4 linked regions of the Homo sapiens genome follow. The protein of the gene in region 4 interacts with the protein of the main gene of each other region in a pairwise test. Each region holds a gene or a part of one and is shown on either strand. Other genes may lie near its edges.

Evidence for each region.
Region 1: the proteins of GRIPAP1 (region 4) and TSHZ2 interact in binary tests that used the Homo sapiens proteins (3 or more experiments, as listed by UniProt).
Region 2: the proteins of GRIPAP1 (region 4) and CFAP53 interact in binary tests that used the Homo sapiens proteins (3 or more experiments, as listed by UniProt).
Region 3: the proteins of GRIPAP1 (region 4) and DISC1 interact in binary tests that used the Homo sapiens proteins (3 or more experiments, as listed by UniProt).

Annotation. Positions count from the first base shown.
Region 1 is NC_000020.11:52,975,346-52,982,372, forward strand, and holds part of TSHZ2 (teashirt homolog 2), read left to right. Parts: intron 1-7,027. UniProt on the Homo sapiens protein: Probable transcriptional regulator involved in developmental processes. May act as a transcriptional repressor.
Region 2 is NC_000018.10:50,242,470-50,249,496, reverse strand, and holds part of CFAP53 (cilia- and flagella-associated protein 53), read left to right. Parts: intron 1-6,380; coding exon 6,381-6,597; intron 6,598-7,027. UniProt on the Homo sapiens protein: Microtubule inner protein (MIP) part of the dynein-decorated doublet microtubules (DMTs) in cilia axoneme, which is required for motile cilia beating.
Region 3 is NC_000001.11:232,007,765-232,014,791, forward strand, and holds part of DISC1 (disrupted in schizophrenia 1 protein), read left to right. Parts: intron 1-1,020; coding exon 1,021-1,285; coding exon of another isoform or gene 1,286-1,390; exon of another isoform or gene 1,391-1,890; intron 1,891-7,027. UniProt on the Homo sapiens protein: Involved in the regulation of multiple aspects of embryonic and adult neurogenesis. Required for neural progenitor proliferation in the ventrical/subventrical zone during embryonic brain development and in the adult dentate gyrus of the hippocampus.
Region 4 is NC_000023.11:48,978,247-48,985,273, forward strand, and holds part of GRIPAP1 (GRIP1-associated protein 1), read right to left. Parts: coding exon 7,022-7,027; intron 5,625-7,021; coding exon 5,529-5,624; intron 5,195-5,528; coding exon 4,982-5,194; intron 4,847-4,981; coding exon 4,733-4,846; intron 3,627-4,732; coding exon 3,549-3,626; intron 3,446-3,548; coding exon 3,350-3,445; intron 3,227-3,349; coding exon 3,170-3,226; intron 3,069-3,169; coding exon 2,969-3,068; intron 190-2,968; coding exon 59-189; intron 1-58. UniProt on the Homo sapiens protein: Regulates the endosomal recycling back to the neuronal plasma membrane, possibly by connecting early and late recycling endosomal domains and promoting segregation of recycling endosomes from early endosomal membranes.

The sequences.
Region 1 (7,027 bases), on a different chromosome or scaffold from region 4:
CATTACAAAAAGTGCATTGCTCAGAATTGCTCGACTTTGATTATAATTATCCTACGATCGATAAGGATCCAGGTGTACGTAACATAACACTGTATCACATTATTTAAATCAGGTCCTTTTCATTAAGCTGTGTCTGTTGGTGCTGGCTAGTTTATTGGTGTGTGTGGGTGTGTGGGGGTGTGTGTGTGTGTGTGTTAGAAACTTGTAACTATAGTTTCAGTTTTCTGGCCTATTATATTCCTACTGTCTTTGTATGTTTGTTTTGTATGATTCTTATTATTTTCACCAGAAGCGGAAACCCTTTTTAAGCTGAAAAAGGATGATTCATTTCGTACACAGTGAGGGCCCTCTTACCTTATTTATTTGCTCACATATTAATAGAGGAGACAGTTTTTCATGCAGTGTTTCTTCTGTTCATCTAAGGTCATCAATGCCCTACTCTATTTCAGCTGAAGTGGTTATTCACAAGTAAAGTTAGCCACTTTGGGGTTCTGTAGTCAGTTAACATCCAGGGAAGGGGAGAAGGTGGGTTCTAAGATTATGGCCATACTAACTTTTATCACTGCTTAAAATTAAACACAATGCACAACTGTAAGTAATTACACCCAAGGACTGATGTTGAAAGCTTGATTTCTAGCTTGATTAATGAATAATGGGAGATAGAAAAAGCCTGTGAGTGGATCCGAGCTGAGGCTCTCCCGGAGCGCTCTTTTTCCCAAGAACTGTTCCAGGCAATTTGATTCCTTTGTATTATTAGTTATAAGTTCCATGTTTCAAGGAATCAATTACAGAACTTTCTACTAAAGCAGGTATCTAAACAGAATAAACAAGATGATATTGTAAGTGATGAGGAATTTTAGTCTTTATTTGTTATGTTCCTCCCCCTTCAGGGGGAAGGGATGTGAGGGGACAATTCTCTTTAAGGAAACAGCTAAATCAGAGTATTTCCCTCTGAAATGTCATTCTTCCTGGCTTTCTTAAGCTATGCTATTCCACCATACTATTACTTAGGGCAAGAAAAAAAAAGTTGAGAAAGCAGCCTACAGTACCCCAGGGGTTTGTGTTGTGTGTGCATGCTTGCTTCCTTGGATGTATATTTCACTCACCATTAAAATACATCCACTATTACCTGAAAATATTGCAGGATTCAGTACCAGCATTTTCCCCTTCTATGCATTTCAAGGGAGATAGAGAAAATGGCAGGAAAGTAAAACAGAACGGTGTTTTGATTTGTTTGCATTTTGCAGGATGCAGAGTGGTTAAAAATTTAAAATTGTAGACTTAGAATCTAACTCTTGATTTTCTACAGCCTATCTCAGCCTCTGTGCGCGCACATAAATAATACGTATTTTATTTCACCATACTGAACTGCTTTTATATTAATGACAGCCAATTGCAATAGAACACACAATCTTTTGTGAGCACATCTTGTGAATATATCTTTTATATATGTAAGTTATAGGATTCTGCCCCTGCCCACCCAAAGCAATTAGATGTTTCCCTCTTGCTGACTCTTAAAGGCTTTCTGATCACCCAGATCTGAAGAGTCTTGCAAGAAAGAACAGCTCCCTCAATTTATTTTGTTTATTTAATATGGAGATGAATAATGCAGATTTTGTTTTCATGAATGTCCTTGTGTGGCAGTAAACATTAGACTATTAGCAATCATTACTTAAAAGTTGCAATTTGCACCTTAATAACACAGGTTATTTACATGGGAAACATAGTCAACAGGGACAACTCTGAACACTGCAACAGAGCAGAAATGACCTCAGAGATCTCTTTTCCACCTCTTGATAGTGATGACTCTGAATTAACCGGTGAGGTCCCAGAAATCTCAACCAACAGGATGGAGGGAGGGGGCAGGCAGCTCAGGGCGAAGTTTACCTTTAATTTACTGTCAAGTGGGACAGCTTTCAAGAGACTAGGAATCGGGTAGATTTGGGACCCTTCCTCCCTCACTTTGTTTAAACATCCTTCAGAAAGACAAGTTCACATCTTGAATATTTAAATATCTCACGCGATGGATTCCTTCACTTGCCCAAAAGTATGTTTTTAACAAATGAATGGAAAAATACACACACACACACACACACACACACACACACACACACACACACACACGCATGGACACAATAAAGTCCAAAGGGTCTTAGCAGCACAAACTCTTTTGGCCATTCTTGTTACTTAAGGCAGATATCTGAAAAAGGAAGGATAGATTCCTTGAAATCGCTTGGTCCACACAACATTTTGGACGGAAATTGATTGCTTAAGTGGTCCTTTTCCCACCCCCGTCTTGATTTCCTTCTTCCACCTCTCACCTCACCCTTAAAGACTCAGACTGAATAGGACATCTCAAAAGCCCATTTGTTTTAGGCATTTATTGATTTCATTTTTAATCTGCCATATCAGGACACAATACGTTAACCCTAATCAGCAGATTACAAGTGACAGAGAGTTTAGTGGAAACTCTGTAAGGGAGCAGGGGCTCCGGGAAACTTCTTGACAATGAAAATCTTCTCTGAGGCTTAAGAGTTTGGATGCTGAAGATTACTTTTGGGGAGGGGAGAAACATTCCTCAGAAACAGTCTACATTTTTTTCTTCCACTTTACATTTCTTTATCTCCCAGTTGCCCATTCTACTGCTACACTTTGGGAATGCTTAACACCCAAGAAATACCTCCCAAGTATTTTTAGGAGGTCGGTCCCTGAAGCAGCTTGACTTTTGTCATAGTCTCCAACGGACGTTTATGCTTTCATTTCATCCCAGCTGATTTCTCATTCATTTGACGGAATTTCTCCAAAGGATAATACCTGAGTTGATCTGTTTCTTTTCCCAGGGCCTTGGGAATTGTGCTGTCCATTGAATGGGTTTTGGTCATGGGGGTGGGGGCACAGACTGAGCCTGGCATTTTTTAAAGCCATTGAAATGATGCCTCACTGTTCATCACTGCAGCTGAGCTTATCAAGTCAACCAAGAAGAAAACCTAGGCCCTGGTCACGTTTGTGCTATGCCTGTAATTAGCTGACACGAGGTAAATGTCCAAAGTCGACCTTCCCTTCCATCACTGTATTTATACTATCAATTTTATTTGGGAATGTCATGGTCTGGGAAGACTCAGCCACTATTTCGAAGGCAATGCCTGCTTCTACCTAGGTCCCCTTTAAAAAAACACAGAAATTGCCGAACAAATTCTATATTAAGACCAGGCATACACGGAGTATCATTTTCGTTTGATGCAAAGTCAGTTGGAAATACATTTAACTAACAGTTAAATAGTGTCTTGCATCGCTTCCCTGAAGCAGTGGTTTTTCATTACATATTTAATTACAATCAAACTGAACGACTTTTATTAAAAAAATCACAGTGGTATTAAAAGAAGCCTGGCGCACAAATAATTTTATTGCTTCACAAGTTGAGAACGCTTTTATATTTTTATTTCTTTGAGAGAAATTTATTTTAATTTTCTAATGTTGTGATAAATACAGACTATCTTTTACTGTAGTCTGTAATCAGGGAGAGCTTATCCTTCTATCTTTATAGAGTCTGCTTACCCCAGAATAGGTTTTTACATTCATTTTTCAGTAATTTGTAACAATTGGTATTTTTAATTTTTTTTTTAAGTTTTACAAGTTCTATTTAAAGTTAGAAATTCTCACATTCCTTAGGGTGATCTTTGGCAAGCAGCTCTTCGATTATAGGAGGAAGTTAGTCATTCTAACCACATAAGAAAGTGGAGAGTACTTGCTTGCTTACCTGAATATTACAGTAAGAAAAAAACACCATCTATTTACATGCCTCTAACATGTAACACTATTTTCACTGGATTTATAATTTCTTTTTTTTTTCCTCCTACTGACCTTTCATTCACTTGTTTTGGGAACTTTTTCTGAGAAGAACGTTTAGAGATAGCATTTAAAGTGGATTTCAAGATACATCAGATTTTAAGACATTGTAATAAAAATTAGAGACTTCAGAGCCCAACGGTTCACTGCTAGTCTAGGTCTGCAAACTAATGAGAAAGCACCTCTGCAAACACATAGTTTCAACTTTAACTTGCACATGAATGGGGAGCGTCTCCAGCAGTGTGGCCGTATCCATATTGCTCATTTTGTCCGAGAAATTATTTTGTCCAAGGGTATCAGACTGAGGTCCGTTCAAAGACATTATATACATACACAGAGACACAGAAGAGAAATCTGAGATGCGAGTGGGAATTGCTGATATATTTGTTTCCAAAGCAAACTCCATGAATGAAATGATTCAATAATTTGGAGGCATTTGAAAGTCATTAAAATGGCCATTTGGAATTTTCAGTTGTTGCCTCCCTCAATTTTTTACGTTTCCCCTGTAGAAAAAGACATCCTCTGGGCACCCTCAAATATTCTGGGATGCTAAAGTCATGCTAAAATTATTTACAATTTTAGAAATTAAAATTCAGGAGGCACAGCAAGATAATCCGATTATTAATATATCAGTATTATTTAGCTATGCATAACAACAGGAAAACGCACAATGCAAAAGTTTTAGAGATAATGAGCTTAGAGAAATTACATGGGGGGAAGAAATACCTGGATCATATTTGAAAGCATTTGTCTTGAATTCTGCTCATCTAAATGAGAGCTCTCTTTCTACCTGTGTCATTTAAAAAACAATTTCAATATCCTCCTACCTGCTACCCCAGCCTGAAGCAGGGACTAATGAAACTCTCTCTGGACACACAGATGTAAGACACTATATTACACAACACTTTTTAAAAAATTGTTTCAGAAAACCAAATGTGGGCATGCAAACCAAAAGAAAAACCTCAAGGATCTTCGTAAGATAGCTAGCTCAGGGTTCAAGATCAAGAGAACTTTGTTGCGGCAGGATAAGAAGACAACAGCATTGCGTTTTAGCTAAACATCTCTTCTTGGCAAATGAGAAGCGGTGAAGCAGGGAAGATTTTTTTAAGGAGCTTTTTAGCTCTTTTGCATCTCTCTCCAAAGACTAATTTAATTGAAAAGCTGTAGTGTCCATTTATGATTAAGGAAAGGCCTCATGTTTCCACAACACTGCTAGACACTAAGGTGGGTTTGAAGAAAAAAAAAAAAAGGCCAGCATTCTGCAGTTTCTGTTAGTATAAAAATTAAGATCACTGGTCTTAATTACTTGAGTGCTTTCAGAACTGAAGGAATACTCTAAAATCACCCCTGAGCTTTCTTCTTAAAGCCACATCTAAGCCATTTCTATGGAAATTATATAGTTTAGATATTAAGGTGGGTAGAATACAGTTATTGCTTTTAATGAAAATAGTTACGAAGGGCAGAATGAGATAAAAACAGAGTTGGCAGCAGCCATTCTATTTGTAATGAATTTGAAAGAAACTTCCGTAATGCTTTACTGGATCATGAAAAACCCATGAAACCTTGTGACATGGGAGATACAAAAATGAGACAGAGGGTCAAGGTCTTCTATAGGGGAAAAATGGCTTGTGTAAGTGAGAGCAGTGGCATATAAATATCTCTATATAAACTGCACAGGGCTTACTTTAAATCACTTCAATTTATCAGATCCTTGGAATTTTTTTTATGTATTTAGGAGCCTCTCTTTTATACCCCAGAGAGATATGAATAGCTTCTGGGCCAAGATGATGCTGTAGAGAAGAGTCAAATCTATTCTATGTGCACGGTGCCATTTGGTACAGAAGAAATGCCAAAATGAAAAGCCATAAATGCGTTTTATATCAGAATTGCCTTTGGCTATTTTCCTTTATTAGAAAGTTGGGTACACTGCTGAGTGCTTCTTCTTGTTTTCCCCCTTGGGATTAGATTTGAGACTGTGGATGGAACAGCGGAGTAAGGGCAAGTGACTTGGGTTCTGGTTGCAGCCTTGCCCCACGCTAGTTATTTAGCCCCGGGCAAGCTCTAGAGATAAACCTTACTCTCCGGGTAAGAATGTGAGTTTTTGGAGTCAGACTGATTGAAGTTCAAGTCTCTAGGTCTAATTCTTATTCGGCCGCGTAAACTTGGGCAGGCTGCTCAAATCTCTGCCCTCCACTTTCTAATCTATAAAATGGGGGCAATCATATGTTCCAGGTGTGTGGAAAGGATTGTGTCAGAGGAGGGCTGAGAAAGTGTGCTGAAACTGTTAGGCACCACAGGGATACGAGGGAATAGTGTGTCTTTACCCTGAATAACCAGACTATGGAAAATTTATATTAACTGGGAAACAAGCAACTTACCAGTTATCACAGAACAAGGGGTCCAGGGCTTGAAAGAAACCAGATATGGATGGATTTTGATTTGTAAGCCTGGAAACACAATGGCTAAGCAGTGTTTTAGCCTCTTCTCCTGAGGCAGACTCATTCTGGGCTGTTTGGAGTCCAGCACCCGCTCAAAAAAGAGTTTCTTTCCCAAGAAATAGAATTTATAGCACCACCAACAACGGTAACAATGGTAACAATGATATCTGCCACTAAACAAGTGCTTTTTACATACCACGTGCTTTATATGTTTACATTTATTCGTTTACACGGCAGTTATTTCTTGAGTTCCTACTATGTGTCAGATGCTGTTCTACTACCTGGACCTGGAGGTGAATAGGATGGGGATGATCCCTGGGGATCTTGCCCTCCAATTGGGGGAAGCTAGAGAATATACAAAGAAATTTATAAAGGAAAAGATAATTTCAGTATAGAAAAAAAGCTTCATGATGGCAATAGCTTTATAAAAGCAAAATTATGAGAGCAGGAGTTGGGACAACAGAGATGTAGATGGTCAGGGGAGACCTCTCAGAGGAGGGGACATCTGGGCTAAGTCCTGTTCCTTATAACTTTCAAGTATAATCCCTGTTTTACTGATGAGAATCTGAGTAAGTTGCAGGATAACTCATTCAAGTTCGTGCGGTAGCCAAGCTGAGTTTTAAACTCAGCTCTTCCTGCTTCCAAAGTCCATGCATTTAATTTATTATGATCGTTTATCTAGAATAGTCATAGCGAGTTGCCAGGAAGGACCCAAGGAAGAACCCTCAGTCTTATTATTCTCC
Region 2 (7,027 bases), on a different chromosome or scaffold from region 4:
ACTCAGGCTGGAGTGCAGTGGTGTGGTCTCAGCTCCCTGCAGCCTCAACTTCCCAGGCTCAACTGATACTTCAGCCTCAACCTCCTGAGTAGTTGGGATTACAGGCACAAGCCACCATGCTCAGCTAGTTTTCTTATTTTTTGTAGAGATGGGGTCTCACTATGCTGCCCAGGCTGGTCTTGAACTCCTGGGCTCAAGTAATCCTCCTGCCTTGGCCTCCCAAAGTGTTGTGTTTACAGGCATGAGCCACTGCACCCAGCCTTCTTTTTATTCTTTTTTTTTTTTTTTTTTTTGAGATAGAATTTTGCTCTTGTTGCCCAGGCTGGAGTGCAGTGGCGTGATCTCGGCTCACTGCAACCTCCGCCTCATGGGTTCAAGCGCTTTTCCTGTCTCAGCCTCCCGAGTAGCTGGGATTACAGGCGGGTGCCACTGCGTCTGGCTAATTTTTGTGTTTTTAGTAGAGACAGCGTTTCGCCACGTTGGCCAGGCTGGTCTCAAACTCCTGACCTCAGGTAATCAACCTGCCTCGGCCTCCCAATTTATTCTTGAGTAGTGTTCATGGTATAGATTTACCACAGTTTGTTTAGCCATTTACCTGTTGAAGGACATTTGAGTTGTTTCCAGGTTATGGCTATTATGAGTAAAGCTGCTATAATCATTTGAGTACAGGTTTTTCTGTGAACACATTCTCACTTTTTTTTTTTTTTTTTTTTAGGCGGAGTCTTGCTCTGTCACCCAGGCTGGAGTGCAGTGGCATGGTCTCGGCTCACTGTAACCTCCACCTCCCGGGTTCAAGTGATTCTCCTGCCACAGCCCCCTGAGTAGCTAGGATTACAGGTGTGTGCCACCATGCCTGGCTAATTTTTTCTATTTTTAGTAGAGATGGGATATCACCATGTTGGCCAGGCTGGTCTCAAACTCCCAACCTCAAGTGACCCACCCACCTTAGCCTCCCAAAGTGCTTGGATTACAGGCATGAGCCACCACACCTGGCACAAATCATCATTTCTATGAGATAAATGCCTAGAAGAGCAATTGCTATGTCATATAGTAATTGCATGTTTAGTTTTTTAAAGAAACTGCTAAACTGTTTTTCAGAGTAGCCATACCATGTTACATTCCCACCAGCAATACATGAGCAATCCAGTTTCTCCACATCCTCACCAGCATTTGGTGCTATCACTATTGTTCACTTTTAACCATTCTGATAGATGTGTAGTAACATCTCATTGTGGTTTAATTTACATTTCCCTAATGGCTAATGATTTTGAACAACTTTTTATGAGCCTGTTTTCTATCTGTATGTCTTCTTCAATGAAATGTCTCTTCATGTCTTTTGCCCATTTTCTGTTTTTTTTTTTTTTTTTAATTTTTGTTGAGCCAGTATCTCACTCTGTCACTTAGGCTGGAGTACAGTGGCATGATCATAGCTCACTGCAGCCTCCAACTCCTGGTTTTTGTCCATTATCTAATTGACTTGCTTATTTGATTTCTTTTTCCTGTTGAGTTTTTTGTTCACATTTAAATCATTTTTTTAACAGCTTCAAGAGAGAATTCACATAACATCCAGTTCCCCAGTTTAAACCATACAATTCAGTGGATTTTACTGTTTTCACAGATATGTGCAGCTGTCATCACATTTTATTTTAGAACATTTTCACTATCCTGCTATCCCTTCTTCCCCACCTCCTGCCTCCAGTCCTAAGCAGCCACTTATCAACTTTGTGTCTCTATAGATTTCCCCATTCTGGACTTTGATATGAATGGAATCACATGTTATGTGACCTGTTGACTGTCTTCTTTCACTTAGCATAATGTTTTCAAGATTTATCCACATTGTAGCATGAATCACTATTTTATTTGTTTATGTGGCTGAATGATATTCCATTGTATGGATATGCCACATTTTGTTTATGCATTATGTCAGTTGATGGACATTTGGGTTATTTCCACTTTTTGGCTATCATGAATAATGCTACTATGAACATTCATGTACACATTTTTGTGTGGACATATGTTTTTATTTTTCTTTGGGGCATGTATCTAGAAGTAGTACTACTGGGCCATACGGTAACTCTGTGTTGAAGTTTTGAGGAACTGCCAAACTGTTTTCCAAAGTGGCTGAACCATTTTACATTCCCACCAGCAGTGTATGAGGGTTTTGATTTATCCACATGCTCACCAACACTTGTTATTGTCTGTTTTTTTTATTTTACCCAGCCTAATGCATCTGAATTGGTATCTCATTATGGTTTTTATTTGTATTTCCCTAGTGACTAATGATATTGAGCCTCTTTTCCTGTGCTTATGGTCATTTGTAGATCTTCCTTGGAGAAGTCTATTTGAAGGCTATTCTCTATTCTTAGAGAAGTCTATTCAAGTCCTTTGCCCATATTTTAGTTGGGTTATTGGTCCTTTTATTATTGAATTGTAAGAGTTCTTTTTTTTTTTTTTAAATCTCACTCTTGTCGCCCAGGCTGGAGTGCAATGGTGCAATCTCATCTCACTGCAACCTCCACCTCCCAGGTTCAAGCGATTCTCCTGCCTCAGCCTTCTGAGTTGCTGGGATTACAGGTGCCTGCCACCACGCCTGGCTAATTTTTTTGTATTTTTAGTAGAGACGGGGTTTCACCATGTTGGCCAGGCTGGTCTTGAACTCCTGACCTTAGGCGATCCACCCACCTCAGCCTCCCAAAGTGCTGGGATTACAGGCGTGAGCCACCACGCCTGGCCAAGAGTTCTTTATATTTTCTAGATTCAAGTCTCTTACCAGATAAATGACTTGCAATTATTTTCTTTCATTCTATAGGTTGTCTTTTTACTTTTTTGATGATGTCCTTTGAATCACAAAAGTTTTAAATTTTGACAAAGTTCAATTTAGCTATATTTTCTTTTGTTGCTTATGCTTTAGGGGTCCTATCTAAAAAATGGTTACCTACTCTAGGATCACAAAGATGTACTTCTTTGTTTTCTTGTTAGAGTGTTATAATTTTAGCTTTTACATTTAGGCTTTTGATCCATTTTAAGTTTTGTATATGGCATGAGATAAGGATCCTAATTCATTATTCCTCATGTGGATATCCAGTTATTCCAGCATCATTTGTTGAAATAATTCTCTAATTGTTCCCCTATTGAATTGTCTTATCACCCTTGTCAAAAATCAATTACAGTAAAGTGAAGGTTTATTTCTGGACACTCAGTTCTATTCCATCAATCTATATCTCTATCCTTAGTCCAGTATAACAAATCTATATGTCTTGATTACCGTAGCTTTGTAGTAAGTTTGAAATCAGAAAATGTAAATCCTGGCCTGGTGCAGTGGCTCACGCCTGTAATCCCAGCACTTTGGGAGGCTGAGGCAGGAGGATCACCTGAGGTCAGGAGTTTGAGACCAGCCTGACCAACATGGTGAAACCCCGTCTCTACCAAAAATACAAAAATTAGCCAGGCATGGTGGCCCATGCCTGTAATCCCAGCTACTTGGGAGGCTGAGGCAGGAGAATCGCTTGATCCGGGAGGCGGACGTTGCAGTGAGCTGAGATCGTGTCATTGCACTCCAGCCCGAGCAACAAGAGTGACACTCCACCATTGCACTCCAACCTGGACAACCAGAGTGAAACTTCATCTCAAAAAAAAAAGAGAGAGAGAAAATGTAAATCCTCAAACTTTGTTCTTTTTAAAATTGTTTTGGCTATTCTGGCTCCCTTGCATGTCCAGGTATCTGGAAGTTACATGGATCAGCTTGTCAATTCCTGCAAAGAAGCCAGTTGAGATTTTGGTAAAGATTGTGTTGAACCTGTAGGTCAGTTTGGGAAGTGCTGTCATTTTCACAGTATTGTTTTCTGATTCATGAACTTAAGCTGTCTTTCCATTTATTTAGGTCTACTTTAATTTCTTTCAATAATGTTTCTTAGTTTTCAGAGTATACATTTTAACACTTACTTTGTTAAATTTATTCCTAAGTATAACATTTCTATTTGGAAATAAAATTTTTAATTTCATTTTAGATTGATGCTGTCAAATAGGAATACAAGGAGTTTTGTATATTGGTCTTGTATCCTGCAACATTGCTAAACTCGTTTATTAGTTTTTTTTTTTTTTTTTTTTTGAGACGGAGTCTCGCTCTGTCGCCCAGGCCGGACTGCGGACTGCAGTGGTGCAATCTCGGCTCACTGCAAGCTCCGCTTCCTGGGTTCACGCCATTCTCCTGCCTCAGCCTCCCGAGTAGCTGGGACTACAGGCGCCCACCACCGCGCCTGGCTAATTTTTTGTATTTTTAGTAGAGGCGGGGTTTCACCTTGTTAGCCAGGATGGTCTCGATCTCCTGACCTCATGATCCACCCGCCTCGGCCTCCCAAAGTGCTGGGATTACAGGCGTGAGCCACCGCGCCCAGCCTTATTAGTTTTAATAGTTTTTTTTTTTTTTTTTTTTTTGAGATAGAGTCTCATTCTGTCACCCAGGCTCGAGTGCAGTGGCATGTTCTTGGCTCACTGCAACCTCTGCCTCCCAGGTTCAAGTGATCTTCCTGCCTCAGCCTCCTAAGTAGCTGGGACTACAGGCTTGTGCCACCACACCCAGCTAATTTTTTTGTATTTTTAGTAGAGACGGGGTTTTACCATGTTGGCCAGGCTGGTTTCCAACTCCTGACCTCAAGTGATCTGCCCACCTCAGCCTCCGAAAGTGCTGGGATTACAGGCATGAGCCACCATGCCTGGCCAAGTTTCAATAGTTTTTTAGTGGATTATTAGTTCACTCTTCTTTTTGGTGCTCAGATTGCCTGATTCTAGATCATGAGAGTCCCTTCAAGTGGGCTGTCATGCTCTTTTGATACTGTCCACCAACAGACTTTGATAGTTTTCTTGATTCTGACACAATAAGATGTACCAGGTTCATCCTGTTCAGTTTCTGCTCCAGTCTTATATTGATTATTTTCCCAAGGATTGTTGGTTCTTTTTAGTGGGAAATGGTATTTATCTGTTTTCACACTGCTATAAAGAACTACCTGATATTGGGTAACTTATTTAAAAAAGAAGGTGTAATTGACTCACAGTTTCACATGGCTGGGGAAGGCTCAGGAAACTTAAAATCACAGTGGAAGGGGAAGCAAGGCACGTCTTACTTGGCGACAGGAGGGAGGGAATGAAGAAAGCCACACTTTAAACCATCAGATCTCATGGGAACTCACTATCATGAGAACAGCATGGGGGAAACTACCCCCATGACCCAATCACCTCCCACCAGGTCCCTCCCCTCACACATGGGAATTACAATTCAAGATGTGATTTGGATGGGGACACAGAGCCAAACCATATCAGGTGTTTAATAATATCTACAACCTTGGTATTGGATGAACTCATTGCTATTGGATAGTTACTGCAACATGGCAGTAGCCAACTAAAAATGCCTGCGCTAAATAAACAGCAGGTCTCAACTTTAGCTGCACATTACTATCACCTGGGGGAACGTAAAAGGTATCCATTAATTAGGAATTTCTGGGGGTGGGACTCGGCCCTTGATTTTTTTTGTTTTTGTTTTTTTTTTTTTGAAACGGAGTCTCGCTCTGTCGCCCAGGCTGGAGTGCAGTGGCACGATCTCGGCTCACTGCAAGCTCCGCCTCCTGGGTTCACGCCATTCTCCTGCCTCAGCCTCCCGAGTAGCTGGGACTACAGGCGCCCACCACCACGTCCAGCTAATTTTTTTGTATTTTTAGTAGAGACGGGGTTTCACCATGTTAGCCAGGATGGTCTCAGTCTCCTGACCTCGTGATCCACCCGCCTCGGCCTCCCAAAGTGCTGGGATTACAGGCTTGAGCCACTGAGCCCAGCCAGATGTCAATACTTTGTAAAGCTCCCCAGTGACTCCAAAGTGTAGCTAAGATTGAGAATTGCTGTAATAAAGCACAAAATGACTACCAGCCAGAGAGACAGTGCTCTAATAGTAGAAGTAACTTATTTTGTTGATCAGATTAGGATTTCATATACCTAAATTAAAGTAAATGAAAATAAAGCTGTATCATTGAAAACTATTTGGCAACTACTTTGAGAAACACTTTGGGAAAGTGTTTGAATTAACTTATTCAAACATTTATTATCAAACATTTTAAACAAATACAAAGAATTGCACAATGAGTCCCCACGTGTCCATCACCTCACTTTAACAACCATCAACTGATGGCCATTCTTGTCTCTTCTATATCCCTACCCATTTCCCCCGCTACTCTTGAGTATTTTGGAATAAACTCCAGACATACATCTGTAAATGTTTCAGTACATAGTTCTAAAAGATTGGGATTGGAGCTTTTAAAGATTTTTTTTAAATGTATCCTTACTATAGTATCACACCAAAAAATTTTAACAATATGAATTTTTATGTTACATAGGAAGATATGATAAGAGAACAGAAGATATACCATAAATATTTGGCACAGAGACGTGAGGAAGAAAAAGCTCAGGAGAAAGAATTTGACAGAATATTAGAGGAAGACAAGGCAAAGAAGTTGGCTGAGAAGGACAAGGAGCTGAGACTTGAAAAGGAGGCAAGGAGACAGCTTGTGGATGAGGTCATGTGTACAAGAAAACTTCAAGTTCAAGAAAAGTGTAAGGAACTGAATTACAGTTATATTATAGCTTGCCCTTAATTCAATTTAAGTAACAACCAAAATACTAACAACCATAATACTTATTATGTAAAACACCATGAGGGATGCAAAAAGGATGAAGGCAGGAGGCCTGTTATTGCAAATCTTATCTAATTGGATATATATGAAGAGACCAGCAGATTCCAATCAGTCACGGGGAGAAGTTCTCAAGGTTAAAGGAACAGTACATCATTTGAATACTGTATGTCTTGGTGATTAGAATGAAGAGTGAGAAGGTGGGGCACAGACATACAGCTCCCCCTTGTCCTTTGTATCTGTCCCTCTTTTCTTTCGAAAGTTATCTCCATACAGTTTCGGGAAGTCAGGGACCCTGAATGGAGGGACCGGCTGAAGCCACAGCAGAAGAACATAAATTGTGAAGATTTCAT
Region 3 (7,027 bases), on a different chromosome or scaffold from region 4:
GAGGGGCTGGGGTGAAATGATATGGTTAGGCTTTGTGTCCCCACCCAAATTTCATCTTGAATTGTAATCCCCATAATCCCCAAATGTTAAGGGAGAGACCAGGTGTAGGTAATTGAATCATGGGGGCAGTTTCCCCAGTGCTGTTCCCAGGATAGTGAGTTCTCATGAGATCTGGTGGCTTTATAAAGGGCTCTTTCCCCCTGCGTTCTGCACTTCTCCTTCCTGCCACCATGTGAAGAAGGTGCCTTGCTTCCCCTTCACCTTCTGCCATGATTGTCAGTTTCTTGAGGCCTCCCCAGCCACACTGAACTGTGAGTCAATTAAACCTCTTTCCTTTGTAAATTAACGAGTCTTGGGCAGTTCTTTTTAGCAGAATGAAAACAGACTAATACAATAGAGTCTAGCAATAGAGTGGAGAACAACATAGTTACAAGCTCTGCCCTCAGGGAAAAGAAAACAATAATCACATAAATAATTAGAATTGTCATAAATACTCTGAAATAAAAGTAAAAAATGCTAAGAGATCCATCATATTTTCCAGTTGGAAGGCAGGGAATGTTTCTCCCAAAAAGGTTATTTAAGCCGAGTTCTGAAGATAATATGATTTAGTCAGATGAAGGCCTGGTTATATGTGTGTTGATGGAGAATGGACAGAGAGAGTTGATCTAGCCTGGAAGAGTTGGACAGGTCTGAGGATTCAAAGCAAGTCAGTAGGGCTGGTAACACATATATGAGCAGAAACTGTGTTGTATTGGGCTGCTGAGTCTGGAAAAATACATAGGATTTTGGATGCCTTTGCAGACCAAGCAGCTAAGGACCAGCACATTTCATGGTGACTTGATGGTGTGCAAATTTGGTCCCTCTGATGAATCTTCTAGTTGAAATAATTTATCACTGTGAAATTAAGTCATCAAGTATAAGATGACCAGCTGACTTTTAGCCAGGTAGACAAGCTATCGACTTGGTATGATGAAACATCACTGAGTTCATTTTTATGCCTTTGTTTCCTCTCTGTCTCAGCTGCAAGTGTCCACTGCTTGGGAAAGTGTGGGAAGCTGACTTGGAAGCTTGTCGATTGCTTATCCAGAGCCTACAGCTCCAGGAAGCCAGGGGAAGCCTGTCTGTAGAAGATGAGAGGCAGATGGATGACTTAGAGGGAGCTGCTCCTCCTATTCCCCCCAGGCTCCACTCCGAGGATAAAAGGAAGACCCCTTTGAAGGTATTGGAAGAATGGAAGACTCACCTCATCCCCTCTCTGCACTGTGCTGGAGGTGAACAGAAAGAGGTCTGTCCTTTTCACATGGCCTCCAGAGGGGACCCTTATTCTAAGGGGTGCTTTGGGACCATGCTCCAAATGGGAACAATAAATATTGGGAAGGCTTCCCATTGAGCATATAAACTTTTAAAAGTTTCAATAACTCTTGAATATGATTACAAAATAAAGTAGAATTTTTGTAGAAGTTTGAAATATAGAAGAGCAAAAAAACCCAACTTTTGGCATATTTAGTTCCATTTTCATTCTAATTTAGTGGCTAGAATTAGAATATGCAGTCTAATATAGAATTACCATATATAGCATACATTATATATGTCATATATAATATAGTTATTATATTCACTATAGATTATATATGCCATACATGATATTTAACATATATACTATACATTATGTATTGTATGTCATATATGATGTTTATATATTTAGAATCTATATATTACAATATATTATTATTTATTTGAATGAAACATTCAAATATATGTATTTATCCCATTAATTGTTTTTACCAAAACCAGATCATAATGAATGTTTATAATGTTCTTCTTTCATAAACACAACTAAAGTTTGGCCTGAGATATATGTATTACAAATTAAAATATGGTTTTATTTAACTTTCTTTTTCTCTCCCCTCTTTCCTCTCTCCCTTCCCCTTCCACTCCTCACTTTCCTCCTCCCACCCTAACAAGAGTCTTTTCCATAAAAAGGCCCTAGGAAGTTTTTCCTGATTTCAGTGCCATGACCTGAGTCTTCAGAGCTCTTTGTTGGCCCAGGTTCACAGGTGTTGTGAGTGTGGAAAGGAAATAGCATGGAGAGGCTGGAGGAACTTGACACATGGCTTTCAAGTCTCATGGTTGATGTTAGATGTTAGCTGTGCTTCCTCCCTGGGTCTTTGCCAGGACTCACCACTGGTGGGTGGGGAAATTGCCACCTCCCCAGGCCAGCCCTGCCAGTCTCACATCCCATCTGCAGGACCATGGCCTTCAGAGAGCAGACATTTGTGTTCTTAGTCACTGCCTCTGGACTGCTTAGAAAATCGATCCTTGATCCTATATTTGGATTCCATGGTCTTATAAGAAAGCAACCACTGTCACTCTGCATCCTTGCTGGCCCAGTCACAGGCTCTACGTTAATTTATAGACATCTGAACTCGTTTGTTAACCCAGGTGCTACAGGTGGAATCCTCCAGCAAAGCCTGGTCTCCAATGCTCTGGGTAGAGGTGTTGAAAAGTTACCACCTGCTGCAAGTGGATGGCTTGAAAGAATATTCTGGGGTGGAGGGAAGTGCCACCTAAGCAAGGGTTTATTCCTGGGTGGAAGAAACTGCAGGCTCTGGGAATGAGTCTTTGAAGGTGTGTCTGGCTTTCCAAAGTGAGCTACCAGGAGGAGCTCGGTGTGGGGCAGTCAGAAGCCATGCCAGGTATGTGATGGAGTCCCTGGGTCATTGATTCTGCTGGAGGCCAGGACTGATTCAGCAGAGATCCCTTTCTCCTGTAGCGGAGAAAAATGAATATCTTTCCTTTACCCATCTAAAGGTTCTCAGCTGAGGCACCTATACAGACAGAGTAACAAGAGAAAAATGTACAAATGTGCTTAATATAAAATTTACATGACACAGGAGCCTGCAAAAATGAAGACCCAAAGCAACAGAAACCAGTGTATTTTTATGCTTAAGTTTGAAGAATAGCAGACAGATGTGGAGAAGTATAATTGGACAAAAGGAGTATGATTTAATGGCAATAAACTGGGGGGAGCTTAGCAAGGCCTGTTTGCTCGGATTCTTCGCTGCATCCCTGTGTCTTCAGAGATAAGGATACTCCTTTCCTTTGGGTATAGGTTGTACACTTTAAAGATGAGGGTGTTATAATCTACTTTAGAGGAAGGTCAGATAATTATTTATGGCCTGCTTCAGGAAAGAATGGCTGCAGAAGGTCAGAGAGACTTTCCTGCTTCTGCTGTTCCTCAAATGCCAAGGTGCCATATTTTGGGGTAGTGTATTCTGAACCCCATCACTCTCTCCCTCCCTTTCTCCCTCCTTCTCTGCCCTGCCCACTGAGCCCTGAGCCCTCCAGGTTCTCTGGGGACAGACTTTCCCAGGCATAGGAGGATTCGTTTTCCTGCATAGCATTATAAGCACCTGTCAATTTCACTATCTGGCTATAAGAACACAGAGCTATATTTGTTGAAAAATAGGAAGCTTGGGGTCAAGGATGAAAAAAGAGTGGAGCCTTATCCTAGGTCCTGTGGTGGCTGCTGTTTGGGTGCTCCAGGGGTCCCCCAGAAAGCCTCCCAGATCCTCTCCACCAATTGAAATGCTGAGGATGTCCTACATTTATTTGTTGCTTTCTTGGGGGTGAGTGGGTGCTTTAGAGGGGACCTTACAGCTTTTGCTGGCTTTCAGTATCATTTCCCTGTTCCTGTATCGCAGTGCTGGATTTATTTTCACAGAGAGGGCAGCCGTTCTCTGAATTCATGAGTGCCATGGATTTTAAGACAATGTTTTCTGAGAACGGCAAAATTATGGGGCCAGAAAACAGATAAATTGTTGCCAGGAAAGGGGAAGGGACTCATTACAAGAGCAACAGGAAGGAATTTGGTGCGTGGAAGTTGGGGGCGGTTGATAGAAGTATTCTCTCTCTTGATTGTGGTGGTAGTTACGTGACTGTGTGTATGTCTAAATCCATAATTTTACATCAGAAAGAGTGAATTTTACTGTGTATGACTTTATAACAATTATTTTAAAAAGTTTTTTTAAATGTCTACCTATTTAAAAACCGGGCTATAGATGTTTGAGTCAGTGCTTTTGTCTCAGGGCTATCAAAACGCAGTGTGGCCTGCTGGAAAGAGCACAAGGCTTGAGTCTGAGTCTGCCGTGATCCTCAGTTAGGCCTCTTACAGGCCGCATCTCCACATCTGTTAAGAAAAACACCACCACGACATAAGAGGATAATGAAAACTATCTCATGAAGCTGTGATGAAGATTTAAATAAAAGGATGCATCACGAAGTGAGAGACGCATACCTAGTAGAGGCTAATTTGTGTTAACTTTTGTTTCTATCACTCTTTCTGGCAGTCACAAGCATCTCTAAAATGCTTTTTGCATGCATAATGCTAGCAACAGCTATTTGTTTGTATGACTCAGTCTCCAGGCTTAACTTTCCCTTTTGCATAAGGAGTTTGGGGGTGCTTGAGATTGTTACATTTTCCTTTACATGTATAATATACTCACTTTTTGTCAAGAAGTAGACATGAGCAATGAGTTAGTGGAAGATACCCAGTCAGAGAAAGGTTTAACGAAGGAAAACTCCCGTTTGTATTCGGGTCCAGGATTTTAGACTACAGAAGGTATGGGGAAATGATAACAAGGGCCTCATTAGGAAGGTGCTTTTGTTTTCCTGCCTGTGTTTTCCGGGAGCCATTGAAGTCTGGGTACTTTGCATTTATCCTGTGGCTAAAATGTCTATTCGCTTTGCAGCTCTGGGTTGGTTTTGCTTTAGAACTCCGTGCTGGGTCTGACCATCCTATACTGGTTTCTCTACTGAAGCTTGATGCCCTGAAGGCAGTCAATTTCTTTTTGACCCAAATCTTCCATGAAAAATTACTGACTTCTTATAGAGGTCCACAGGAAGATGAGTTTTCAAAGCCTTTCCCGTGCTTATCTGGCCAACGTGGTGATGTGCATTCTGGTGATACTTTGTTATCACAAGGGCTTTGTCGTTGATCGACACCTTCCTGGGTCTACGGTCCTTGCCAGGCTGCTGAGCACCATTCCCCCATTTTACAGCTGGGCCCATTAAGGTGAAGCAATTTGCTTTGGACTTTGTTACAGAGGAAGTCAGCAACAGGGCTCAGTGCCAATCTTAGCATGAACTTCCTCGAATTGTAAGAGCCCTTTTCTTTTCCAGTTTCATGACAGCTCTCCTCCAAGCCTTTCTGAGGACTCTGGAAACTATCAGCTGCTGTTGGCCCTGGTTCGTAGATGTTACAGAAATTGAATGGGGGCCAGACAGGAGCCAGGGAAATCAGTGAGCCAGGCTTCCTCCGCTGTGAAGTGGCTCTTTTGTACGGGCTGTTCTGGCCATAATACCTGCGTAATTTTTTTCTTTCCTGTCTGCAACCTAGCCTGCGGGGTGCTTTCTGTTTCCATTGCTTTTTCTACATAATGGGCTCCCTGGACAGTACCACTCTCCCAGACTTCTCATCCCAGCTGCTTCCTTTCTGAGCCAGTAGCTCTCACCAAAGAGGCCAAAAGAGGACCTGGCAATGTTGAGTCATTGCGTGCAGTATGTGAGTAGCCAGTGTGTGAACACAGCTGCAGTGAACGGAATTAGCAATAAGACACAACGCAACCAGGTAGCCTCATTTGTTCAGATTGAGGTCTTCAAAAAGCATTTTAAGTTTACGGGTGGAAAGGTGTGATACCTTTCCTCAGCCATCATTAAGGGCTAACACTCCTATAACAAAAACAAGTTAACGAGAAAAACATAACACATTTATTTAATCAGAGTTTTACATGGCACAGGAGGCTTCAGAAATGAAGACCCAAAGACCCAGGAAAAACTATTTTTATGCTCAGATTTAATGCAGAATAGTCAGCTATGAAGGAATGTGATTGGACAAAATGGGTATGATCTAATGGTTATAGACTGGGGGGTGAGCGGACCAGCAAGCCCTGTCTGTTCAGATTCTTCTTGGACGCTCTGCATAGTATTTATTCCTCTTGGGTATGGGGCCGGACTCCTCTAAATGGAGGGCCTTCAAGGGAGAAGGAAGAGAGTGACCTTTCTAGGTTTTATGTTTGCTTTGAGGGAGAGGAGTCCTAGTTTCTAAGACTGGCTTTGAGGAAGAGGAATTCTGGTTTCTATGGCTTGCATCCAGGGAGAAAAAGGAGTGTGAGAGGGGAGGGCAAGAGAAGGCAGAGAGATCTTGCTTCTGAGGCCTTCCAATCTCCTTTGGTTCAAAGTACTCAGGCATACCAAAGTGTCACACTTAGGGGTATCATACTGTGAGCCACAACATAAATATCTCCATTCCTTTTTACTCAATTTCACATAAAAAAAGCTGGAAAAGGTGATCCACAATGAAGATGTTTGTCCTCCTTGTCTTAAACTGATTTCTATATCTAGAAATGTCTTTATTGGGCAAAAGTGCTTCCTCTTCAGCCATAATGGGTGCAGATCTGATTCTTTCTCTTCTCTGACACTTACTGGCCCTGGGACAGCTGGAAACTCACTTTGACTCTCCAAGGAGCACATCCCTAAATGTGTGATCTCTTGATATCTCTCCCACTTTTGAAAAGAACTGACAAGGGAAAAATGTTCACTTACCCATCAGCTGGTTTTGCTCTTTTTGTTTAATGTCTTTGGGGAGAAAGCAAAGAGCTAGGACATGAAGAAAACTTCTATCTCCACTACATTTTGAAGTTTTGCAAACCCAGCCATCTTTCCCAAGAGCAGAGCAGTAGAAGCAACCAGGATGCAACCAGGGTTGGTAATTGGTTGGTTAATTAAAAAGTCAGAAAAGACAGAGAGTCATAAAAGATGATGCATGCGTATTTTAAACCTTTTTGTTTCTAGCTGAAAACATGCCCTCTCATTTGCTATTCATTCGATATAGGACCAAGTATTTCTGTTTGTAGAGCCTGCTGATTGGCTTTTCACATGACCCTCGTTGTGTAAACCTCACCTATCATGCATCATTAACAGTTTCCACTTTTGGTGTCTTTAAAGTGGGCTGGAAACGTTAAGAGCA
Region 4 (7,027 bases):
GTTCTCAGATTTTTGGGTTGAGAGAAGCTGGAGCTGTAGGTTCTTCCTTTCCCCTTACCCTGGCTGGAACAGCCGAGCTCTCCTTTTCCCGCAAGATCTCCCGGTAGCTGAAGGAGGAGATGCTACTGCTGTCCCCTGTCTGGGTCCGGCTTGGTGAGTTCATCTCTGAGAGAACCAGCTCCTCAAGGCCTGGGTGGTGGAGGGAAGAGAAACTTGAGCCCCAATACCCCTGAGTCCCAGGGCAGCAACCAGCAGGAAGAGGCAGAAATAGATTTAACAGAGATGGAAAGAGAGACACCTGGGCATGGGGAAAGGCAGAAGCAGACAGGAGGACAGGGAGAGACAGAGACAGAAAAAAGAGCTGAGGCTGGGCGCACTGGCTCACACCTGTAATCCCAGCACTTTGGGAGGCTGAGGTGGGCTGATCACTTGATGTCAGGAGTTCGAGAACAGCCTGGCCAACATGAAGAAACCCCGTCTCTACTAAAAATACAAAAATTAGCCAGGTGTGGTTGTGTGTGCCTGTAATTCCAGCGATTCAGGAGGCTGAGGCAGGAGAATCGCTTGAACCCAAGGAGGCGGAGGTTACAGTGAGCCGAAATCGCACCATTGCACTCCAGCCTGGGTGACAGAGTGAGACTCTTGTCTCAAAAAAAAAAAAAAAAAAAACAGAAAGAAAAGAAAGAGCTGCCTTTCTGGAGAAACACATACAAAATGAGAGGGAGAAAATGGAAGAGGTTGGAGAAAGAGAACGACATGGGTACACATGGGTCTCAAGTGGCAGACACACTTGGACACAGGGTTCAGAGAAAGGAAGACAGCTAGAGAGGGCACAGGGCACATCCACTTGCAGAAAGAAAATGCCAGAGATGGAAAGCCAGAGCAGATGATAGAAACTGAGACCCTGGTGAAAGAAGTGAGCCAGAGCAGAGACAGAGAGAAAAAAAGATGCCGGGCGCGGTGGCTCACGCCTGTAATCCCAGCACTTTGGGAGGCCGAGGCGGGCAGATCACGAGGTCAGGAGATCGAGACCATCCTGGCTAAAACGGTGAAACCCCGTCTCTACTAAAAATACAAAAAATTAGGTGGGCGTGGTGGCGGGTGCCTGTAGTCCCAGCTACTTGGGAGGCTGAGGCAGGAGAATGGTGTGAACCCGGGAGGCGGAGGTTGCAGTGAGCCGAGATCGCGCCACTGCACTCCAGCCTGGGCGACAGAGCGAGACTCCGTCTAACAAAAAAAAAAAAAAAAAAAAAAAAGAAATGCAAGCAGGCTCTCGTACCCACGCACCTAAATCTCAGTTTAATCTAATGGACAAGGTGAATGTATTGAATGTATGGTATACGATTGTAACGTTTCCCAAGATTATTATTATTATTATTTTTTAGACAGAGTTTCAGTCTTGTCGCCCAGGCTGGAGTACAATGGCGCAATCTCGGCTCACTGCAACCCCTGCCTCCTGGGTTCAGGCAATTCTCCTGACTCAGCCTCCCGAAGTAGCTGGGATTACAGGCGCCCGCCACCACACCCAGCTAATTTTTTGTATTTTCAGTTGAGACGGGGTTTCACCGTGTTGGCCAGGCTGGTCTTGAACCCCTGACCTCAGGTGATCCACCCACCTTGGCCTCCCAAAGTGCTGGGATTACACCTTTCCCAAGATTCTTACATTCATCTGTGATAAAACAGAAACAAAACTCCTTTTTAAAGAAAGGTTACTTCAGGAGACCGAGTGCCTCAGAGAGAAATTGATTTGGTGAGAGATACACATCTGTTTTGCCACATCACTTAAAGCCCTCGAGGATCTCTGGCAAGGGTGGGGTGACTGAGTGGGGATCCGTAGGTATCCCGAGTGGGGGAATAAGGGACCAAGTTTTCTCTGAGTCTGTAATCTAAGAGATGCACCAGAGCCATCACTGCATTTTACTTACTTAAATGTATTTATAGGCCATCCCCGTCTTAAAAAAGGCTGAAGCAACTAAAGTTGTGTGTGTGTGTGTGTGTGTGTGTGTGTGTGTGTGTGTGTCTTCTGCTTGAAGTGGCAGAAATAACAGATTGGATTAGCTGTATAATGAAAACACCACAGCGTTGCTGACTATGTATAAGTCTGTCTCCGTAGCTCAACTGGGGGCTTCTAGAGGGCAGAGACTCAGGGAGTTTTATATCAGGGACCCTGTACTTGAGCAGGGAGATTTATAGAATGAGAGATTGTATACAATAGATTTAGAAATGCCAAGTGAGGTGTGGGAGTGTGTAATGTAGTACATACAGTGAGGAGACAGACAGAGATATAAACAGAAGAGACGAAGAGGACACAGAGTGGCGGGAAGAGATAAAGGGACAGAGAAAAGAAAGGGCGGGGGCCGGGCCCAGTGGCTCATGCCTATAATCCCAACACTTTGGGAGGCTGAGGCGGGCGGATCACCTGAGGTCGGGAGTTCGGGACCAGCCTGACCAACATGGAGAAACCCCGTCTCTACTAAAAATACAAAATTAGCTGGGCGTGGTGGTGCATGCCTGTAATCCCAGCTACTCAGGAGGCTGAGGCAGGAGAATTGCTTGAATCCAGGAGGCAGAGGTTGCGGTGAGCCGAGATCACACCATTGCACTCCAGCCTGGGCAACAAGAGCGAAACTCTGTCTCAAAAAAAAAAAAAGAGAGAGAAAAGGAGAAAACTAGAGAAAGAAAGCAAGGAGATAAAGGCAAACATAGAGGAAAGAGAGAGAACAAACTGAGACAGAGGCAGAGACAGAAACAGAGAAGAGACAGGGCAAAAACGAGAGAAAGATAGAAATAAAGAGAGAATGCAGAGAAAGAATCAGAGGAGAGACAGAGAAAAGGTAAAAGATGGAGTTCCAGAGCGACAGAAGCAGGAAAGCACAGCTGAGGAAGATGCAGGACTAACCTGCAGCCTGCAGGCCCAGGCCCTACCTCCCCCATGCCTCAGCCTCCTCTCCCTGTCCTAGTCCCTCACCTGAGCGGCTCTTGCTGTTAGTGAGGATGTCCTGCAGTCGCTCCTGCAGCTTATCTGCCCGTTTCCGCTCCAAATGCAGCTGCCGCTTGAGGTCCTTGAGCTGTGGGGGACAGGGGTAACATGAGGACTGAGGCCCAGTGGGCCCATAGGAGGGAGGCTACAGGTAGGAGGGAGCCGTGCTTGGGCACCGCTCTGTCTTACCGCAGCACTGCCCTTCTTCTCCAGGATCCTCTGCCCATCCACTGTGTCCTTCACCTCCTGTGGGAGAAAGCAGGCATGGCTGGTAGATGCCGGAAGGGCTGCCTGAAGCATGCTCCCTCCCTGCCCCTCCTGTACGCTGAGGATCAGGGGTGTGTCTGGGGCTGTGCAGTGACCACTGACCTGCTTCAGGCTGCTAATGGTCTTCAGGTGGCAGTCCCGCTCCTCCTGGGCCTGCTCGAGCTGATCCCGTACATCCTGTAGCTCCTCCTCCTTGCCCTGCAAAGCAGAAAGCAGCTTAGGCATTGGCTTGGGAAGCCTCTGTCCTCCCAGGAGGGCCCGTCACTGTCTGGAGAGAGGAACACCATCATGCGAGAGGCACCTTCAGCTCGGCAGCGTGCTGCTCCCGACACTGCTTGAGGGCTTCCTCTTGTTCCTGCTGCTGCTGCTGCAGGGATTCCTACAAGACAAGTCCCAGGTCTGGCCACAGCCCCCCAGAAGGTATCATGCCCAGTTAGGGGTATGAGGGACTGCAATGGGGGCCCAGAGGTATGCAGAAATGACCCTCCTGCAGGGAACCCCACACGCCCTTAGGCAATATGCTGAAGTGTCACATCTAAAGTTGCACCATTCGCATGGTTGACTTAGATTTGCATTTACATTTTATTTTATTTAACAAAACATAGCGCTTACTACATGCCAAGAATGTTCTAAGGGTTTTACATATATTAACTCATTTTCTATAATCCTCCCGTAATACCTAGATGGTAGATATTATTGTTACCCCCTTTTTACCATTGATGAAAACAGGCCACAGAGAGGTCAGATAACTTGCCCAAGGTCACACAGCTAGGAAATGGCCCAGCCAGGATTCAAACCTAGACAAACAACTGGCTCCAGCCTGTGCTCTTCACTGCTACATGACAATGCCTTTCAGTGTATTATGAGATTTCCAGAAAATGGCAACAAAGGTTCTTTTTCCGAGACAGAGTCTCACTCCGTCACCCAGGCTGGAGTACAGTACACGATATCAGCTCACTGCGACCTCTGCCTCCTGGGTTCAAGTGATTCTTCTGCCTCAGCCTCCTGAGTAGCTGGAATTACAGGCGCCAGCCACCATGCCCGGCTAATTTTTGTATTTTTAGTAGAGACAGGGTTTCACCATGTTGGCCAGGCTGGTCTTGAACTCCTGACCTCAAGTGATCCGCCCACCTCGGCCTTCCAAAGTGCTGAGATTACAGGCGTGAGCCACCGCACCCAGCAGGTTCTTGTTCAATAACATCAGTGTATTGCATTAATTTCCTGACAGAAGTACAGTTTCAGGAGAAAGAGGTGCCTTTCCAAATTTGCACAAAGGCAGGGCAGCCTTAACACGTGACAGTCTGTCCTATCTGATGGCCATCCCCTGATCCACTCCAGAGGGCTGCTATTGAGCCAGGGGACTGTGGGGATATCCCTAAGTCCAGAAAATCTCGGGAAGTTCCAGGGCCTGACCACTCCTGCTTCTGTGGTTTGACATGAGGGCCCCAATCAGCCTCTGTTCCTCACCAGGCATCACCAACTCACCTCGGCTTCCTTCAAGCGCCGTTCAAACCAGCCCTTGGCTCCATCCATGGAATGTACCTGAGCTTGAAGTTCTTCCACTGTCTGCTGGAGAGTCTCCAGCTCCCGTGTCCGGGCCTGGGATGGGGCAGACTGTCATGGGCCAGGAAGGCAGAGGAGCGGGCACCTGATGCATGCCACCCACTGGCCTATCAGCAACGCTGTGGTTCCCAGGTTTTAGAGGAAGAAGGGCATCATCATCTACCCACCCACCTTCTCCTCCCGGATCTGCCCACGGAGCTCCTCCTCCTGACGCTTCTTGTCTTCATGCAGCTCTCGGAGCTCACGCTCATAGCGGGCACGCACCCCCAGCACCTCCTTCTCATGCCGTAGACGAACTGCTCCCAGCTCTTCCTTGTGCTGGGACTTCTCTTGCAGCGTTTCCATTGCTAGCTCATCCAGCATGGCCTTCCGCTTCTCCGCACTCTGGGGGCCAGGACGATGGCAGTCAACTTCCTTCCACAACATCGAAAAAAGGCCTCCAACCCTCTTCCCATGCCCAAGGAACTAGCCAAACTCCACTCCCTCCCATCCCCACTGAACTGGCTAAGGCACTCACCCATCCTTATAGAACTGGTCACTTTCTTTCTTTCCCCTCCCACTCTCATGGATTTGGCCAAGAAACTGGTCAACCAGAAACCAGTCAATTTTCCTTTCCCTCCTATCCCCACATGTTTGGTTATATCACCTCCTCCCATCCCCATGGACTGAGCCAATTCCTACCCCCCATCCTCTCCCTTCAACCCTCATGTTCCCCTACCTTCCGAGCCTCCTGTAATTCCTGGGTCAACTGCTCCTTCTCCTGCCCTATTTCTTGAAGTTGTTCCAGCAGTCGACTATTGGCCCGTAATGACTCCTAATGCAGACACCAAAGGGAAAGAGTTTGATAAAGAGCATCCAGTAGGTGCTAGTCACCCAGGACCATCTGGTAGACCATCTCCCTTCTCCCTGGTAAAGTTGGTATTGTGATCTCAATTTCTGGATAGGAAATATAGCAGAGACTGCTAGTTGCTCCCCAGTATTCATTCTTCCTTACTTCCCTAGCAATAAAATTTATCATCGGGCATACAGCTGTCTAGCAGATGTTTCCCCTCCTCCCTTATGGTTAGGTGTGGCCATGTGATTTATTTCTGTATGTGGAAGTGGTGAGTGTAATTTAGGTTATGCTCTTAAAGGAAAGGGGCACACTCTTCCCTGCCCCTTTCCTCCTTCCTTCCAGATAGAATACAAACATGATGGTCGGGGAGTTTCAGCAACCGTCTTGGATGCCAAGATAAAAGTCTTGTGTTGAAGGTGGAGGAACAGCAATGGAGAAAGAACCTGGGTCACAGATGACTGGAAAGCCATCATTCCATCCCTGAATAACCTACCTGGACTTTTAATGAGAGGGAACTAAATTTGTATCTTATTTAATCTACTATTATTCTGGTTTCTATTATGGAATCAGAATGGATATTGCTTGGGAGGCTGAGCCGGGTAGATCTCCTGAGGTCAGGAGTTTGAGAAGCCTGACCAACATGGTAAAACCCCGTCTCTACTAAAAATACAAAATTAGCTGGGCGTGGTGCCAGGCGCCTGTAATCCCAGCTACTCCGGAGGCTGAGGCAGGAGAATCGCTTGAACCCAGGAGGCGGAGGTTGCAGTGAGCTGAGATCGCGCTACTGCACTCCAGCCTGGGCAACAGAGTGAGACTCCATCTCAAAAAAAAAAAAAAAAAAAAAAAAGGAGCCGGGCGTGGTGGCTCACGCCTGTAATACCAGCACTTCGGGAGGCCGAGGCGGGCAGATCACGAGGTCAGGAGATCGAAACCATCCTGGTTAACACGGTGAAACCCCGTCTCTACTAAAAATACAAAAAATTAGCTGGGCATGGTGGCAGGCGCCTATAGTCCCAGCTACTCGGGAGGCTGAGGCAGGAGAATGGCGAGAACACGGGAGGCGGAGCTTGCAGTGAGCCGAGATCACGCCACTGCACTCCAGACTAGGTGACAGAGCAAGACTCCATCTCAAAAAAAAATTAAATTAAATTAAAATTTAAAAAATGAAAAAGAATTGATATCCTAACTAACTGAAGAGGCTCAGTTTCAGAGAAGTGAAATGACTTGTCCCAGAACACACAGGTGCTAATAAGTTAGGGAGCCAGACTGGAACCTAGGTCCTCCTGACTCCAGTCTTCCCACTCCACCTTACTGGGGACTTCACTGGGCCATTACTAGGGAACTAGGAAGAGACAGGCCAGAGCCAAAGGTGTTACCTGGAG